Linked DNA regions of Homo sapiens. The protein of the gene in region 3 interacts with the protein of the main gene of each other region in a pairwise test. Each region holds a gene or a part of one and is shown on either strand. Other genes may lie near its edges. The genes, in order: KIFAP3, OFD1, CCSER2 and CRADD.

Region 1 (4,352 bases), on a different chromosome or scaffold from region 3:
TTTCTCTCTCTGCTCAGATCTGCTGTTAAAAACCCTGTAGTGATTTTTTTATTTCAGTTATTGTACTTTTCAGATCTAGTGTTTTTGTTTGGATCCTTATGATAATATATTTTTAAACTATTTATGTGTTGAGACATTGTGTTTCTCCTTTTTCTTAGTTATTTGCACTGGTTTCTTTTTGCTCTTTGGACATATTTAAGACAGTTGATTTAAAGTCTTTGATAAGTCCAGTGTTTGTGCTGTAGCATGGACAGTTTCTGTTAATTTTTTTTATTGTGAGAATGAGAATGAGTTTCTTGTTTCTTTGCATGTTTCATATTTTGTTTTGTTGAAAACTGGGTATTTTGAATATTATGGTATCCAAAGGAAAAAAAGAAAAGAAAAAAATACTCTTCAGATCTTTGTAGGTTGACTCAGTGTTTGGATATGGCTTCAACACTTAGCCAGGCAATTTACAATTTTACCTTAGCCTTCATTTGCTGCTTGCACAGAGCCTGAAGACCAGCCAGAGGTAAAAGCTTATGATCTTCCCAGGTTTTTTCTGGGTATGTATTCTGCCCTGAGCATGCTCATGGATTTCTAGATTTCTCTTTATATGCAATAGCTTTTCAAAGCATCTATTCCCCCAAAATGTCTGACTCCCTGGACTTTCCTCTTGGGCTTTCAGCTTGTGTTTTGTTTGACCCAGCTATTACTATTTATCCCAGGGGCCAGCAGCTTGTATGCTTGGCTTTCACTGATTTCAGTGACTGCATAGCTGCACTATCCTGATAAGAGTTTAAAATTAGTCAAAACAAAGGAAAGCCCCTTGCAGCTGACCTCAAAGGAAACTTCAGTCAGTTGCAAAACAATCAGACAAAATTCCTTGGGAGCAAGGTCCACTTGACTCCTCTAGAACCAAGTATTAACAGTGGGAACGTGGGCTGCCATCTTGAAGACTGCCACTGTGCTTGAGAGTGGGGTGGATGTCTAGGGTAAGTGAAAAGACCATAATGATCGCCTACCTTGTTTCTGTAACCTTTCTTCTGATTAAACATTCACTTGGTTGCTGTAAACCTTTGACTGTCTTCCAGAGTTCTGATGAGGTTGATTGTGATAGGTTTTTTTTGCCAAGTTTTTAGTGCTTCTGGGGAGTGCCAGCCTCTAGAGGTCCCTACTCTGCCGTTTTCACTGATGTCACTTAGCCATTATCTTTTCATATATTGCTCTGTACCCATTCTCTCTCACCTTTTTTCTGGGACTTCAAGTACATATGCTAGACCTACTCAGTATGCATTGCTGAATTATACTTTTGCTTGTGTTTTACATCTTTTTGTCTCTATGTTTTATTCTGGGTGTTTTCTTCTGACTTATATTTTATGCCATAAATTATCTCCTTACCCGTATCTAATCTGCTATTAAACCTATTTATTTATTATTATTCTTAATTTTGGTTATTGTATTTTTAATTCTAGAAATTTAAAAAAATTATCTAGTTTTTTCTGAAGATGACTATTCTTTGAGTATCATATATAGGAATATAAATGTATAAATAATCATTTGAGGCTCAGGATGATGTTCTCTTTTTCCAGAGAAGATTATATTTTATTTATGTTAGTAAGGATTACTGAAAATTTAGGGTCACCTTAATTAGTTCTCAGAGATTCAATTACATTAAACTGGGCTTTTTAGTCTTGTTGGTGACCGATCTGCATCTGTTTCACAGTTACTCCTAGGAGGTAGTCCTCCTGTTTCAAGCTTAAAGCTTGGAGCTTTACCAGAGCCACTGTTGTTTGGTGCACTCTAGAATCCAGTTTTTGTGTCTCTAGCCTCATGTGATTATTAAAAGATTCTCAACCTCTCAGCCCTCTCTTTTCAGTTAGCAGATACCTCTAGGGAAAAGTAGCCTCAAATTCAAGATTTACCTCTCTTCATTTTCTTTTTCTCCTGGATCTTGGCACTGTAATTTTTTGTGCCTTTTTAGTTCTCTTATGGCCTCAAACAGATACACACATACGTGTTTTTGCCCCCAGCTTTTAAGATTTTCTTAGAAGGTGCATTGGTTTGAATTACCTTAATCCTCTGTTTCTCTATTACCAAGTCTAATGTTAGTAATAGAAATATAAAACTTGTTTTGGTTTTACCAATATGAAAAGCATCAGGAATTATAAATATTTGAGTACATATAAGAGATTATTTCCCTCTTAATTTTTTAAAAATACATATGACTTGAAAGCAAAAATTATGAAATTTTTGTGTGAGTTTATAAGGTATGTACACATAATGCATATGACAGCTATAACATAAAGAATGGGGGGGGGGGTGTAGGCAATAGACCTGCAATTTGTGAAGTAGCACAGCATTAATTCTTAAATACCTTGTGAAAAAAAAAAGGTAACTAAAACATTGTTTTTCCTAAAGCAACCACCAAAAACAGTTTTTAAAAGTATAGTGAAAACATCTACACAAAATGGAATTTAAAAAATAATAATTCACAAGGCTGTTAGGAAAATAATCAAAGTATAGTTGGGCCAAACAGGAAATAAAAATGAAGTGATAGATCTGAATCTAAGTATGTCAGTCATTGCATTAAATGATCCAAAACAATAATGTCCAATAGAACTTTCTTCCCTGATGGAAATGACTTACAGCTGCATCATCAAATACATAGCCACTGGCTGTATGGCTAATGAACACTTTGAACGTGGTTAGTACAGCTAAGGAATTGCATTTTTAATTATTTTTAAAATGTAATGTATTTAAATTTAATTTTAAATAGACCCATGTAGCTAGTGACTATTGTATCAGACAGCATAGGTTTTAATGTTCCAATGGAAAGGCAGAGATTACCAATATTTCTTTTTTTTTTTTTTTTTTTTTTTTTTGAGGTGGAGTCTTGCTCTGTCGCCCAGGCTGGAGGGCAGTGGCATGATCTTGGCTCACTGCAAGCTCCGCCTCCCGGGTTCACGCCATTCTCCTGCCTCAGCCTCCCAAGTAGCTGGGACTACAGGTGCCCGCCACCATGCCCAGCTAATTTTTTGTATTTTTTAGTAGAGACAGGGTTTCACCATGTTAGCCAGGATGGTCTCGATCTCCTGACCTCATGATCCACCCACCTCGGCTTCCCAAAATGCTGGGATTACAGGCGTGAGCCACTGCGCCCGGCCACCAATATTTCTTTTATAAAGAAAAAAGAAAAGCAAGACCCAACTATCTGTCATCCCCAAAAAATATACTTTTAAGTATGGACATGGTAAGTTAATGGTAAATGGGTGCAATCAAACAGTAAGCATAAGAATGCTAAAATGACCATATTAATGTCAGATAAAATAGGCTTTAAGAAAACGTATACTGTAAAAACTACAGAGGAGTATTTCATACTGATAAAATCTGCTACATCCAGACAGTTTTAAAGTCAAATTCTAACAAAATTTTTGGGAAACAGATGCTTCCAATTATGTACAACTCTTCCAAGAAGTCTAGAAAAAAAAGGATACTCCTCAACTAATTTATATTAAGATTTTAGAATAATCTCCATATGAAAGTCAGAAAAAGGACATTAGAAAGGAAAATTGCAGGCTGAATGAGCAAGGATGCAAATTTAATCTAACAGTGCTTTAAGACAGCATTAACAAGTTGTGCTTATTCTAAGAATATGAGTATGGTTTTATGTATTTAATGAATTTGATGTAGTATATTTATGAATTAAAGAAGAACAATACATGATCCTCCAATGGATGCAGAAAAACATTTGATGACATTCACTACACATTCATGATTTAAGGAAAAAACTAAAGCCATAAATAAAAGGGAATTATGATATAAACATATTAAATGAGGAAACTAGCCAGGTGTGTTGGCTCATGCCTGTCATCCCAGCACTTTGGGAGGCTGAGGCTGGTGGATCGCTTGAGCCCAGGAGTTCAAGACTAGCCTGGGCAATATGTTGAAACCCCATCTCTATAAAAAATACAAAACTTAGCTGGGCATGGTGGTGCATGCCTGTAGTCCCAGCTACTTGGAAGGTGGAGGTGGGAGGATTGCCTGAGCCTGGGAGGCAAGGCTGCAGTGAGCTGTGATCACACCACTGCACTTCAGCCTAGGTGACAAGAGTGAGACCCTTTCTCAAAAAATAAAGTAACATCAGTAAATGAGGAAACTTTAGAAACATTTCCCTTAACATTAAGGATGATCCAAGGATACCTATGTAACCACCTCAACATTTCACCAGGAGTCCTAAACAGGTAGTAAGATAAGAAATAGAAAAGGTATAAAGATAGGAAGAGAAGAAATGAAACTGATATTATTCACAAATTATATATTAGTTTGTAGAGAAAACCTAAAATAATGTTCAAGCTATTGGCATTAATATC
Region 2 (4,990 bases), on a different chromosome or scaffold from region 3:
AGTAAATATTCTGCATGGGCATTTTACATTAGTAGAAACCGTTAAGTTGTATGAATAGGATTAATTCCTGCTATATAATTGTATTATTGACTATTACACAATAAGTAAAAGTATAAAGTGATTAGAAAGTTAGAGAATGATGTATCAAAAATGAATTCCAGGCCAGACACGAGGGCTCATGCTTGTTATCCCAGCTCTTTGGGAGATTGAGGTGGGCAGATCACCTGGGGTCAGGATTCGAGACCAGCCTGGCCAACATGGTGAAACCTCCTCTCTACTAAAAATAAAAAAGTTAGCCAGGTGTAGTGGTGGGCACCTGTAATCCCAGCTACTTGGGAGGCTGAGGCAGGAGAATTGCTTGAACACAGGAGGCAGAGGTTGCAGTGAGCCAAGACTGCGCCATTGCACTCCAGACTGGGTAACAGAGCAAGACTCTGTCTCAAAAACATAAATTAATAAATAAATTCCTAATGCTGACAAATAAAATTTGGTTGCTTATGAAGAAATGCAAATTATTTAAGTTTTCATTCAAATACTGTACTAAGCTTGTGTCACTAAAACTTTGGAATATGAAACTTTTGGATAATTACAGAAAACACAAAGAAAGTAAAAACATATGAACACCACCAAGAGTGAAATTTATTTTATTTTTGAGACAGTCTCGCTCTGTCACCCAGGCTGGAGTGCAGTGGCATGATCTCGGCTCACTGCAACCTTCACTGTAAACTATGGCCTCTGGGTGATAATGACATGTCAGGGTAGGCTTATAGATTGTAGCAAATGTACCACCTTGATGCAAGATGTTGACAGTGGGGGAGGCTATGAGTGTGTAGGGGCAGCAGGTATATGGGAATTCTCTGTACTTCCCACTTAACTTTGCTGTGAACCCAAAACTGCTCTGAAAAAATAAAGTCTATTAAAAAAAAAAAAACACGCACATATCCACAGGGAAAGTCTGCTGTATCTGCCTTTAAAATAATAAAGTAGTACTAATGTTCAACAGTAATGGTGAAGAAATATAGTTAAAATAATTAGAAAAGTAGTAAAAAAAAAAAACAAGTGTTTTTAATATTTGAGAACTTTACAGATTTTTTAAATTACGTATTTCTCACTTATCTAATTACAAAGAGAAACATCTGAAGAAACTAGTGCAGGAAAAAAAGAGCTCATGTTAGAGATCTAGATTTACCACCCTGCATTGTCACTTAAAAGTTACTTGATGTTGGGCAAATTGATTCACCTCTCCAGAGTCTGGTTCCTCATCCGTAACACACAAAACATCTGCAGTGTGCCTATCACAGTGCCAAGCTTACAGCAGACATTCAGCAGATTGGCAGAGTCTTATTAGACAAGATAGAGGATAGATAGATCAATTATAGGTCTGAAACATTTAGAGATTCTATACATCACTGTTTTATGTGAGACTAAATGAGACGCCAAGAAATTAATTTCAAATTTAGTACCCACTTGTTATATAACAAATATATTATGTGCAGGTACAATGTGAATTCAAAGAGGAAACAGAAATGGACCTAGTCGAGGAGCACTTAGCTATCATACAGCACTTTACTGTCAGCAGAGGAAGAACCTGTTAATAAAAACTTCAGAAACAGAAAAGGAAAGACTTTACCTTTTCTTTTGCCAAACCACTTTCTGGAAAGAAAACAGAAAGTGAATATTCATAGCCACATCTTTGTAAGTGATCTGCCACTAAAGAGTTAGAGGCGCCTATTAAGAGGGAGCTCCCTTCTACTGAAATGGACCGAGGCTGCAGTTCTCCACTCAATACAGGGTGCATCAACTCATGAATTAGCTGGTTTCGAAGTTGTGTCTAGCATAAAATAAAAACAAAAATAAAAAAGAAACACAAGGGAAAGAAATTTCAGCAGGACTGTTTCATTAGAGATATACACAGATGAGCTACATTCATTGGAAACCTTCCTTCTATTTCCATAATGGTTCTAGATCCATGGCCAGAAGTTAGAAACCTTCCCCTGCACACTTTGTCTTACCCCGTGAGACAAGCAGTCCAGTGGGTTCTAGAAAAAGCTTTCTTTCCCCAGCTTCCAAATGAAACGGGTGGTTAGCCAGATCCACTTGCAGACTCATAACTTCACTTCCCTAGAAGCCCATTTCAGCAGCTTACGATTGGGATATTAAGTATAGGAAAAAATTCTGCCACTTCATCACACCTCTGTGGACTGTTGGAGAATATAACCAAAATATTCAACAACAGGGGACTGCTATATACATTACAAAAATATCCAAAGATAAGCCTGTTGCCACTGAAAATGAAGATTTCAAAAAACTTTTAAGGAAACAGGGAAATGCTCACCATATAATTTAAATTAAAAAAGGATACATACACAGGATATAGCTACATATTTTAAACGTAAAATATGCTTTTGAAATGCATATTTCAATGAAAACACGTTGAGCTAATCCTACTCCTGGCTGTTAATCCAAATATAAAGCATACTAATAGGTATTTTCTGCCCAAACTAAACATTCATACATTTCAATATAGTTTAAAGATAAAATTTTTCATTTCCCAAACTATTATTAAGCAGTACACTAGTATTTTCTATATGGTGTCAATGTCCTTCATCCAAATGTATTACAAACCCACTTATTAATTTAGGAACCTATAAGCCATATTTATAAAACAAGCCTAATCTTACTGTGTTCATTATACAAATATTTCCTTCTCCTATCTTATTGTCAGTTCAATTAATTATTTGAATATGCTCCTTTAAGACGACTCAAACTCAACATTTTCTCAAACATTTTCAAGAGACTGTAATGTTTCAGGATACAGAGTTATTCGGGAATATAAAAATGTAATTCACCAATACAATCTATGTATCATACGATTATTAAAACCTAAACCTTGATTGAATTTGAACTACCTGTTACAGGTTACACTTGTAAAAGCTGACACAGATACGCCTAAATCCGATACCTTGAGTGTATCCAGTATACCCCGATCCTTAAACGTCTGGTATAGCTTTTTGCGCAGTTCATCTTGACTCAACACATCAGCCACGGTAAACATGTTGGACTAAAAGACAAAATGGTTATAGGTTACCTGCGGGGCAGAGGGAACGTGAACGTCTGAAAACAGACCAGTGGCCTCCGGGGAAGCCATAAGAGGCCTAGCGGCGAAAGTTTAACGAACACAAAACAAGACTTTATTTCCGCCCGAGAAGGGGCAGGTGTGTCTACCTGCGCCATCATCAGGCGTCAGCTCCCTCCGGAGCCCGCCTCGCTCGCCCCGCCGCGGCCCGAGTTTAGTGCCCAGCCCGGGCGGTGGGGCCAAGACGAGGGGGAATCCCTGCCCTCAGAACCCTGCCTCTGTCCCGAGGGTTCGGGAGGAACAAAGGTGCTGAACGTTCTCTGCCTCGCACTCCCAACTAGGTTTTCTAGCAAACACGCGAGCTTCCTTTCTTCGCGGTTCTGAGGCAAGGGCGAGGACCCAGGCACGACTCAAAGGCGGCTGGAGGGCGGGGACCCAGACACTAGGGACTGAAGGCAGCGAGGCAGGACCGCCTCACAGCCAGTCCGGCAACTTCCGGAAACCTGCTAAATATAGCCTTCCCGAGCTGAAGAGCTACGGCGCATGAGCTTGGTTGCCCAGCACCGGCCGGAAGCTCCGCCTACGTATCGCGAGAGCACATCCCAGGGTATCGCGAGAACTGCTTCGGCGTTCTGGCTACAGGTTCGGGGCGCGGGTCTCTTCCGCGGAAACTGACATTGCGTTTCCGTTGTCGGCCTCCCACTGCAGGTAGGGAATGGAGCAAGTGCGGCGGGGGGCGGGTGTTTTGAGTCCCTGGAGGACTTCGTAGCCCCTGCGTGACGCGGATGTTGGTCCTGTACCTCCACCCCTCCCCGGGGTGGCCGGGCCGGACCTGCCAGCCCTCCGCTGGCTCATCCGCGCAGCCCTTCCACCTGCAGACGTCCGCCCTCTCGGGGGCTGTGGTTTCGCGGTTCACTGGGTCATTCAGCTAACCCAGGGTTTCTTAACGGCTGCACTGTTGCCTTTTGGAGCCGGAAGATTCTTTGTTTTGGGAGGCTGTCCTGTGCATTGTAGGTTTAGCTGTATCCTTGCTCTCTATTTTGTCAGTATCACCTTCTCCCCCAAGTGTGACAACCAAAGATGTCTCCAGATATTGCCAGATGTCCTCTTGGAAGCAAGATCGCTCCGGGTTGAGATCCACAGAGCTAAACGTTTTAGAGTACCAACCATTGTGTGCTGTGAGGTAAAGGTGAGCCAGTCCTCATGATGCTTAAATGTAATTAGAAAGGAAAGGAACCAAACCTCTCAGAAGCGATAATGAAAATGTTACAGCCAGAGAATTGAACAAGAACTAAGATACATTGTAGACTGGATAAAGAGTTTAAAGGGGAGGTGGTTGAAGATGGAAGTGATCCAGATCATCTCTGTGGAAAAAGTGTGTCTTTATCGGGGCCTTGATGGGTAGGATTCGGGTGGTGAGCAAAAAGGAGAACATCACAGGAAGGGGAAAAATGAGCAAAGGAATCATTAAAAGAAAAAAAAAAGCCACGACCTTCTTGGGAGCAGTGAGGAATCTAGCCTGACTCCAGAGTTGTGTGCTGGGAATATAAGCCTTATATGGTATCTAAGTCCTGTGAGGACAGAATTGGATGTCAGCTTTGTGTACAGCATTGAAGATGAGTACGATGAGTTTTGATCTCTGGCTGTGAAAAACTTAAAGTATTTAAGAGGCAGTAAGAGTGACAGGACTTCATAGGAGGTGGAGAACCTGTAAGTTTTTGTTGGAAACAATGGAAAAGGAGGAGAGGCTTAGTTGGATTTTAAAGGATGGGTAGTGGTTGCAGACAGAATAAAGGAGAACATTCCAGGCATGAAGAGAGAAATGATAGTAGCTCTGAACTCGATATAGTCAAAGTGAATTTGGGAGAAAAAATAAGTAAACGAGTCAACGCTAGCAGAGGTGGAACAATAGGG
Region 3 (4,993 bases):
ATTTTTAAAATTTCTTTGACCATTGTTTGTAAGATAAAAAGCCTTTTGGAATTGGTCAGGCCCACACCACTAAGTACACATTTCAACTTTTTAGAGACAGCCACAATCATCAATTTTTTCCCCCAAAATCCTATCACATAGGAGTAAGATAGGCTCCTCTCACAGACAAGCCACACAAGTAATTTTAGCCATGCTATTAGCCAGCTGCAACCTTCTTATATTAAAATCTCATTGTACCATCAAAACTTAACTGTATGTGAGATGTCCATATGGTGATCAGAAGCCACTTGTTATGGGGCATCTGGAGAGAGCGCCCCAAGCACTGAAGTTAAAACTATCTGGCTGAGAGGAATAGTGAAGGTTAGGTTTCTCCCATATCCCCAAATGAATTATCATGTTTCTCAGCCACAAGGGTTCTAAGTCCCTAGGAGTGGCAGCCATGTATTCAAAGAGGGAGAAAGTGCAAGCAGATTTGCACTCCCTCTGAAAAACTGGCAGCTCCTTCATTTCACCCCAAAGCACCATGGAGTAGTGAAAAACACACAATGATGAGGTCAGGAGATATGAGATGTAGGTGAGCCTAAGCAATCTCAAACAAGTTGTCTTTTTAGGCTGAGTTGTTTAACCGTAAAATTTTTAAAGTTGAACCAAATAATCTGTTAATTCTTTCAAGTTCAATATTCTATTGACCCTTTTTTCAGAACACATCCAAGTCGCTCACAACTCCCATTCAAATTGTAAAACAATTAAGATTTAGAATTAGGAGACTGGGGGCAAAAGTGAAATACACAGATGGTCAAAAGACCTGGACTGTAATCCCCGCCATCCCTTTCTACCTGCGTGACTTTGCGCCTCAAAATAAAGTTGTAGGACCAATGAAGCAGCAATCTTTATTGGTCATGCCCTTTTTATTCCTGTATCATAAAATGGATTTTTTTTAACATAACTGGGGTTTCATTCCTAACCAGCCTACAATCCCAGCACTTTGGGAGGCCGAGGTGGGCGGATCACGAGGTCAGGAGTTTGAGACCAGTCTGGCCAACATACTGAAACCCGTCTCTACTAAAAAAAAATTAGCCAGGTGTGGTGGTGTGTGCCTATAATTCCAGCTACTCAGGAGGCTGAGGCAAGAGAATCGCATGAACCCAGGAAGCAGAAGTTGCAGTGAGCCGAGATGAGGCCATTGCACTCCAGCCCAGGCCACAGTGCAAGACTCTGTCTCAAAAAACACAAAAGAAACCCCAAAACCTGGTGGAGACAGACACATAAACAAATCATTAACTACCAGTTGACAAATACTAACTGGAGAGTGTACGAATCAGTTAAGACAAGAGGGATGAAATGTCTAGACAAGCCTCAGAAGTGCTACTTTCGTAAGGTCTTCAAGGGCAAGTTGTTTACTAGGTAGAGAATTCTCAACAAAGAACACTGAAAAACCACAGAGGAAGATGTCATCTTCAGAGAACTGCAACAGTCTTATATAGAGAGGGCAGGCATAATGGTAGAAGATGACACTAGAATGGAGACAAATACCGCTAATCATGAAGGACTTTGAATTTTATCGATATAGACTATGGAGAGTCACTGAAGGACTTGTAAATATGGATTCAAAGTCCCTTCCTCCAAAATAGTCAAAGGAGTTGAGTCAAAGCAACAAAAAATGCAGGTCTGAATGTGGAAAGGTAGAATTTTTACAGAATTCTTAATAGAGACTTTCGGCTTGCTTTCAGGATGGCTTCTAGTGCTTTCTTAACTATGGCTTATGCTGAAGTACGACAGTATGAATTATGGCTAAAGGGTTCAACAAAGTGTGCATTTTTAACCTGAAGATTATTTGAAGCCAATGTTGTTTAGAACACAAACGAAAACAAAAAATAACAGTAACAAGCTTTCATAAATTAAGAGAAACAGTAATAAAGTCCAAGAGGAAGAAGACTGATTTCAGGCAAACACTCAGGAATATTTACATTTTTATCACATATGGATGACGGATAAGACATGTTTTGAACCCATCTTTTGCAGGAGAGCATCTTAAGTTCCTTTTGGTTAAAGAGCAGCTGCCATCTCTAAAGTCTCTAGTCTAAAAGATGATGCTTTAAAAAAAACAACTGGCCAAATGAATAGGTTCCGTCATATTTTAATGCTCAGGAGAAAAGGAATGCTTTTCATATGGCTATTTTAAAAAGCTTAAAGCTCAATTTCTCTCTTACAGGAGTGAGCTACCAACACTCTAATCTGAGACCAGAGTCCCTGCGTCAGTCATTTCCACTCCGCTAAGGCCTTGTCTGGGAGCAGCCAGCCTCATTGGTCGGGGAGCCCACACAGATGAATATGCAATTACTGAAATGGAAACAAGCTTCGCCACCAAGGACCACCACAAAGGAGTCCCTTCATTCCTCCTTTTACTTTATCAAGAAAGTAGGTGCATTATTTAAAAATGTATGAAAATACATGTCTAAAGACAAGAGAGAAGATCTGAACCTACGGCAACGGTGTGCCCCACCAAAGTTTCACCTCAGGATGTGTTTTAGGGTGTGTCTTTCATTTAGCCCAGTAATTGAAAGAAAAAAAAAATCGAACTCATTCGGGGAGCCCCGGTACTTTCCCTATCCACCCTCACACGCAACCAGGCTCCGAAATCAGAGTGCCTCAGCCTCGCCCTGATTTCTCCTGAAAGGCGGCGGCGCCCGCGGCCCGAGGCCCCGCGCTGTCACAGCCGCAGGGAGGGCGCCCTCCGGCCTCCCGGGTCCGCGCCCGCCCCGCGTCCGGCGGCTCGCGAGGGGCTAGAGAGGCTCACCCTGGAGGCCGGGTACGGGAGGGCGACACCGCCTCAGCCCGGGAGTTCGGGCCTCCGCCCCGCCCCGGACTGCGTGCCTGGTCTTGGGCTGCCCCCGGCGCCCGCCGCGACCCCGGCCCCGGCTCTGGCCCTGAGCCCGGATCTCACCGTGCGGAGGTCGCGCTGCCTCCTCGGCCGCGGCCCAGCTGCAGGCCGCCCTGCGACCTGCGGGCCCGAGGACGGAAGGTGAGACGAAGGGCCGCCCGTCACATCCCCGCCAGCCCCGCCGCCCGAGCCGCAGCAACCAGCATCGCGTCCGCGGCCTGAGGGAGCGCCGGACTCCAAAGCCGCCGCGCCCCCTCCCTCGGCCGGCGCCCGCCCGGACTCCGCCCTCCAGGGCCGGCGCACCGCGCACGCGCAGTCCCGCCCCGCCGCGGGCCCGTGCGCAGGCGCGAGCCTCACGGGGCTACGGGGACCGCCCCCACCGCCTGATCCGGCCTCAGCCCACCTCTGGCCCCGCCCCGCCCTCACGCCAGGCTTTCCCAAGCTCCGCCTCCGCTTCGGGCCCCGCCCCCTCCACTGACCTTGCCTGGCCGCCTCCTGACTCAGGTTTTTGCTGGGCCCACGCAGTGACGCCAGTCTTGCGGCTGACCTCACCTCTAGCCGTCCCCTGGACTACATTTGCTGCTTGAGTGCGGTCAAACCTGACAGCTCCTCCTCCTGGATGTGAAAAGTGAGGAGTGGTCTGAGCATTGGGCATGACTGAACCACGCACCTGCCTACCGCATCAAAACACAGGATCTTGCTAAAGCTGAGGGGAAGGGGCACCCCAAGTGCTGATCTGGTTTTCCCTTTTTTTTTTTTTTTTTGAAACAGAGTCTCGCCCTGTCACCCAGGTTGGAGTTCGGTGGCGCTATCACAGCTCACTTGCAGCCTCCTGGGCTTAAGCGATCCTCTCGCCTCAGGCGTGTATCACCAAGCCTCCGAAATAATTACAACTAAGACCACACTAGTCAAAGTAAACTATCACAAGTTGACCCAAATACCCGGCTAATTTTTATTTTTTCTTTTTAGAGTTGGGGGAAGTGGTCTTACAGGCTAGTCTCAAACTCCTGGGCTCAAGCAATCCTCCCACCTTGGCCTCCCAAAGTGTTGGGATTACAGGCGTGAGCCACAGCTCCTGGCCAATGTGGTTTCTTTGCCAGAAACCAGGTCTTTCTTCCCTTTGGGGCTTCCATCCCCCAGAGGCCATCTCTTCCCCTCTTGTTTTTCCTCGACGCGGCCAGTCCTGCTGCTGAGAGTCCTCAGCCTGGAAGGCTTCCGGGCCTGGCCGGCTGTTTAAAGCTCTGGAGTTGCCCTTACCTGGTTGTAGACTTGCAGTTCTCTGAAATCCTCGTCGGCCCCAACAGCTCGGTTGTAATAACATTTCAGGAGAACTGCTTGAAAAATATCCAGTTCTTTCCTGTCTCCAGATCAATGATACTCAAATGGAAAAAGCAGACGGAATGCCTGATTTGTATAACCACACTTCATTTAATAATACACTTTCATATTTAGAAAATAATGTCTTTTAAATATCAATCCCTAAGATATTTAATGTATTGGACAATAATGTGTGCTTAAAATATTGACAAAGACTAGGTCTAAATGCTGTGCAATCTCTCTTTGGATTAAGTGAGATTAGAAAAGCAAACACCAGGCCGGAGGCGATGGCTCAAGCCTGTAACCCCAGCACTTTGGGAGGCCAAGGTGGGAGGATCACAAGGTCAGGAGTTCAAGACCAGGCTGGCCAATATGGTGAAATCCCGTCTCTACTAAAAATACCAACAAATTAGCCGGGCGTGGTGGCGCATTCCTGTAATCCCAGCTACTTAGGAGGCTGACGCAGGAGAATTGCTTGAACCTGGGAGGTGGAGGTTGCGGTGAGATGAGATCATGCCACTGCACTCCAGCCTGGGCGGCAGAGTGAGACTCCATCTCAAAAATAAAATAAAATAAAATAAAATGCCCAGGCCAGTTGTGGTGGCTCACGACTGTAACCTCAACACTTTGAGAGGCTGAGGCGGGAGGATCACTTGAGCCTAGGAGTTCAAGATCAGCCTGGGCAACATAGAGACCTAGTCTATTAAAAAAAAAAGAAATTAACCAGGCTTAGTGGCATATGCCTGTAGTTCCAGCTATTCAGAAGGCTGAGGCAGTAAGATTACTTAAGCCCAG
Region 4 (4,352 bases), on a different chromosome or scaffold from region 3:
GGTCAAGACTCAGCAAATATTTGCTGGATGAACGCATGAATGCCCTCAACTGATCTGGAGATCCTCCATTTGTCTTTATATACCCAGTACCTGGCATTCAGTAGGTCCTTAGGAAGTATATGAAAATCGGGCTGGGTATACACAGAAACCTGGGCCCTCTGCAGACTCTCCCTTTACCGAGGGAAGGGTCTTGCTATGGATACTGACCCACTGTTCTCACTCTAGCACACAGGACGCCACTAGGCAAACACTACTCAGTCACAGTGGAAGCACATGGATAGACTGCAAGCTAGATACACTGAGACCAACACTGAACTTACATGCAGAGCAAGGTCAATTACGTGGTATGATTGGAGGAACCTATGAAAAGAATCCCAAGCTAGAAACCTCTCTAATAAACCCATCACAATATCTAAAATATCTGCCATTAAGAGCTCAGTGACTTTAGATGCATCCAAGTATGCAACTCAGAGCTAGAATGTATCTCAGGAGGGCGGCAGGTGTGGTTCTGTGTTGTCACTCAAGGCTGGCGCCACAAGGGGCAGGCAGAGCCCTTGAGCCCACAGGTAGAGGGGAAATGGACTAGCCAGTCCTGCGCACTGCTGTTGTAAGAGCAGCCAGGGAGTCCAGGGCACAGAGTCTATGGGGAGGACAAGATCAAGCCCAGAGAAGGTTGAAGCAAGTGTCAGCTTAGGGACAGCCATTCCAACAGGCTCAAGAGTTGAGACATCCAATGCTGATGCCGGAGGCACCGAGCTGTGTTCCCAGAGCTCTGTTCTTCACTCTCGCCATGGCTAAGAATACATAAAGCATGAATCAAACCAACGGAGGAGAGAAAAACAAAAACACTCCCAAGCTTAAAGGAAGACTGGGGCAAAAGGCAGAGAATCATGGCAGACACCCAGACCCACAGCCAGGGCCAACACAGTGGAACAGGGAGGGGGTCCTGTGGCCCAGGAGTCACTCCCACCGTGATTTACGCTGAGTCCCACCAGATGGGGAGGCTGGGCTGCCATCAACCTCCTTTCCAGATCCAGATTAGCTCAGGCACTGGAGGGAGCCTGTCAGTGCCGACAGGCCCCATGAGCAGTGAGAAGCCAGGCAGGCAGGCACAGGCTGCCTTCACCCAGACACGGCACTGTCCCTATCTCCTAAATGACCTGACAGGAGCCCAGAGAGGATTTCCAGCTGATCTAATGTCTAGTATGTGACCTTGGCCAGAGAGACAAACCATGAAGTGTTCTCTCCACGGTGCCAAGGTGGATTAAGTCATTTTATCACCAGAATTCCTCTTTTAAAAGGTAAGAGTCCTTACAGGGTGAGAAAAACACAAAACCAATGATCCATTAACAACTTTAACAACTTAAACCTTTTTTTTTTTCCTAACAGAGATTGGGAGACTAGTCACAGAGGCAGATTCTGAGAGAATCAAAAGGTTTAGGGTGTTTTTGTATGTTTTGAGATTTGATGGGGGTGGCGTTCAGAAGAGTAGAGAAGAACAAGATACAGCTCAATTCTCTAAACAAATTACATCCAGCACATAAGTAAAAAGCAACTAACCAGGAACAATCACCAAAATAAAGCCTCTGAGACAGCTCAAAATTTACAAGTGAAACAACGAAAATTAAAACAACAAACCAATAAAGGGGAAACCAAGCATCTCTGGGAAGACCAACACAAGAAAACCTTAATAAGATAAAATCAGTTCATTCTTAGAGAAGGATCAACGTCTTGGCTAAAAAAGAAGGCCATTCCTTCCCATTTGTTCTCAAGGCCTCCCAAGAGACTACTGAATCCATACAAATTAATTAATAAGTATGATCAAAATGAGGAAAAGGTAGGAAGAGTTTAATGTGTACATACATTAAGAGGTTAATGTGTACACACATTCTCCTATAGTCTAGATCCTCAAAACTCAAAGATATCTTTACAAAAATTTAAGTGGACTATTTTAAATCTTACTAAAATTACTCAATTACAACACTGGAGAAGCACCGAGGTCTTAGGCAGTAGGTTCTGGATTTCTTTTTTATAGGGACGTTAAATTGAAGGGATTTCAACTCTGATACTCTTCCCAGGATTTACAAAATAACAAAACCTAGGTTTCCAATTCAGTAAATCCCAATTTAATTTTAGAATTAAAATATTGCCACCAATTAAATTACTTTAAACATGTAAAAAATATTTTAAGTTCTGAAACAAGAGAAGGTGTTAACTATCAAGTTTAAATGCATAATTTCTTCCATTACTTCCACCCTTTCCTTCCCACACACACAAAAAACATATATATCTCTCTCTATATACATATATACATATACACACACACACACCTCTAGAACTTACGGTATACAGGATTTTCAAAAACATATGAAGATTTTAAAAGTGATTTTTAGGAGATAGGAAACTATAAAGTGAAGAAGTGAATGAATGATAAACCCCCAATTCAGGGCTTTTCACTGCGTGGGGGTTGGGAATGAGACAAGATTGGGAAGGAGTGCCCGGGGTTTTTAAAGGCAATCGTAATATTATTTTTCTTAAACTGAGTGATGAGGAGACGGGTGTTCGCTGTACCATTATTCTCCATATCTTACTTATATTTTGTAATATTATTTAAAATAGTCAATATTTAATAAATACAAGTCTTTTTTAAAAGAGTTTATGTGATTGTCACCGTGGAAGGTATTCAAAGACATATATAAATCAAACCCTCACTTCAGAATGTTTTTTTCAATAGCAGTGTTACTCAGTAAAAAGTAAAACAATTAAGATGACTGTACGAATTTGTTCCAGAGCCAACCTTCTACAGAATTAACAAATCTTGAGAAAAACCTTATTTTTCTAAACTTCTACACAGATATGCTCAATTTTTTTCCCATTATGTACTGCTTCATTCTGTTTGCTTTTTTAAAAAGCTATTTTTCCTCAGCTTCTCTGTAACTCTCATCATTTTGTAAAAAATGCCTTAATTCTTTCTAACTCTCTGAATGAATCTGAAGAAATAATGGGGTTATGGCCGAGCATGGTGGCTCACGCCTGTAATCCCAGCACTTTGGGAGGCCGAGGTGGGCGGATCACCTGAGGTCGGGAGTTTAAGACCAGCCTGACCAACATGGAGAAACCCCATCTCTACTAAAAATACAAAATTAGCCGAGCATGGTGGCACATGCCTGTAATCCCAGCTACTCGGGAGGCTGAGGCAGAAGAATTGCTTAAACCCGGGAGGCAGAGGTTGCAGAGAGCCGAGATCGCGCCATTGCACTCCAGCCTGGGCAACAAGAGTGAAACTCCGTCTCAAAAAAAAAAAAATGGTATTATACCTCTACGAATGACATACAACAGCATGATCTGTATCACCCAAAATGACCATAAAATTAAATTCAGTATTTTGATAGTGAAAGGCTTTCAGTTCACCTGTTTTGTTGTTTCCAACTATATGATGCCAGCAGAAACCTCTAAGTCAAATATCAGGAAAACACCAATAATTTTTTAACATTTCTCCAACTCTATGTTATCTATTCTGCTTTCAATAAAGTCATAAAAACATCTAGATACATTTTGTTCAGACATGTGGAGTATTTAATTTTGTAAGGACAATCCAAGCAGTGAATTCCAGTGGTCCTCAAAAGCCAGCTATGTCTAATATTTCAAAAAGCCTAAAGATACATTTAACTGTAACGAGCCCAGACTAGGAATGAAAATACTTTTGCTTTTTCCACTGGGATCTTACCAGGTCTTCCTAAAGTTAGCTGGCTATGTCATGCTGATCAGGTATTCAGACATATGTCAAAATATGAGGTCCATGGAGCAAAAATAGTAAAAGTGGTCTTATTATCAGTATTCATTTTTTTTAACCAGTATTTAAAAAATAGCAACCACGAAGTCTGGGGCCCACTGAACCGGAATAGTTCTATCACTCTTATCAGAAACCCCAGAGAACCTTGATTCTCTAACTTTGTTAAAAATTTGCAAGCCAACTTTCAATTACTTTTTTTTTTCAATTTTTAATTTTTGCCAGTTCAGTTCTCTGCCCCTCTATCTTTGTGAAACAGAGTCAAGGGAGGTTAAGAAAAAGCAAGTGTTTCCATATCACATCTTCTTCCTGCTACAAGCCAGGCTAACAGAACCAGAACTGTTTCTCTCTTCTCCAGCTTCCAATTCTCCTTCAAATTAAACTGAGACCCTCCCCAAACTATTGCTCTTTGCAAAATTAAATACTCCAGTGTCTGAACAAAGCTAAACTAAAAAGGACACTTTAAACGAATAACCTTTAAAAACAAACTAAGTCAGCCTTCAAAATAATCCCCTTTGGCCACACAGGACAGCCCAGGGGACAGGTGCAGGGCATGCCTTCC

What was found.
Region 1: the proteins of CCSER2 (region 3) and KIFAP3 interact in a two-hybrid assay, tested with the Homo sapiens proteins (one large-scale study listed by BioGRID).
Region 2: the proteins of CCSER2 (region 3) and OFD1 interact in a two-hybrid assay, tested with the Homo sapiens proteins (one large-scale study listed by BioGRID and IntAct).
Region 4: the proteins of CCSER2 (region 3) and CRADD interact in a two-hybrid assay, tested with the Homo sapiens proteins (one large-scale study listed by BioGRID and IntAct).

What each region holds. Positions count from the first base shown.
Region 1 is NC_000001.11:170,064,126-170,068,477, reverse strand, and holds part of KIFAP3 (kinesin-associated protein 3), read left to right. Parts: exon of another isoform or gene 1-974; intron 975-4,352. UniProt on the Homo sapiens protein: Involved in tethering the chromosomes to the spindle pole and in chromosome movement. Binds to the tail domain of the KIF3A/KIF3B heterodimer to form a heterotrimeric KIF3 complex and may regulate the membrane binding of this complex.
Region 2 is NC_000023.11:13,733,319-13,738,308, reverse strand, and holds the start of OFD1 (centriole and centriolar satellite protein OFD1), read right to left. Parts: upstream 3,562-4,990; 5' UTR 3,238-3,561; coding exon 3,226-3,237; intron 3,062-3,225; coding exon 2,963-3,061; intron 1,832-2,962; coding exon 1,631-1,831; intron 1-1,630. Other genes in the region: TRAPPC2 (trafficking protein particle complex subunit 2), read left to right, coding at 4,177-4,259. UniProt on the Homo sapiens protein: Component of the centrioles controlling mother and daughter centrioles length. Recruits to the centriole IFT88 and centriole distal appendage-specific proteins including CEP164. Involved in the biogenesis of the cilium, a centriole-associated function.
Region 3 is NC_000010.11:84,326,760-84,331,752, reverse strand, and holds the start of CCSER2 (serine-rich coiled-coil domain-containing protein 2), read right to left. Parts: upstream 3,165-4,993; 5' UTR 2,945-3,164; intron 1-2,944. UniProt on the Homo sapiens protein: Microtubule-binding protein which might play a role in microtubule bundling.
Region 4 is NC_000012.12:93,679,843-93,684,194, reverse strand, and holds part of CRADD (death domain-containing protein CRADD), read right to left. Parts: intron 1-4,352. UniProt on the Homo sapiens protein: Adapter protein that associates with PIDD1 and the caspase CASP2 to form the PIDDosome, a complex that activates CASP2 and triggers apoptosis.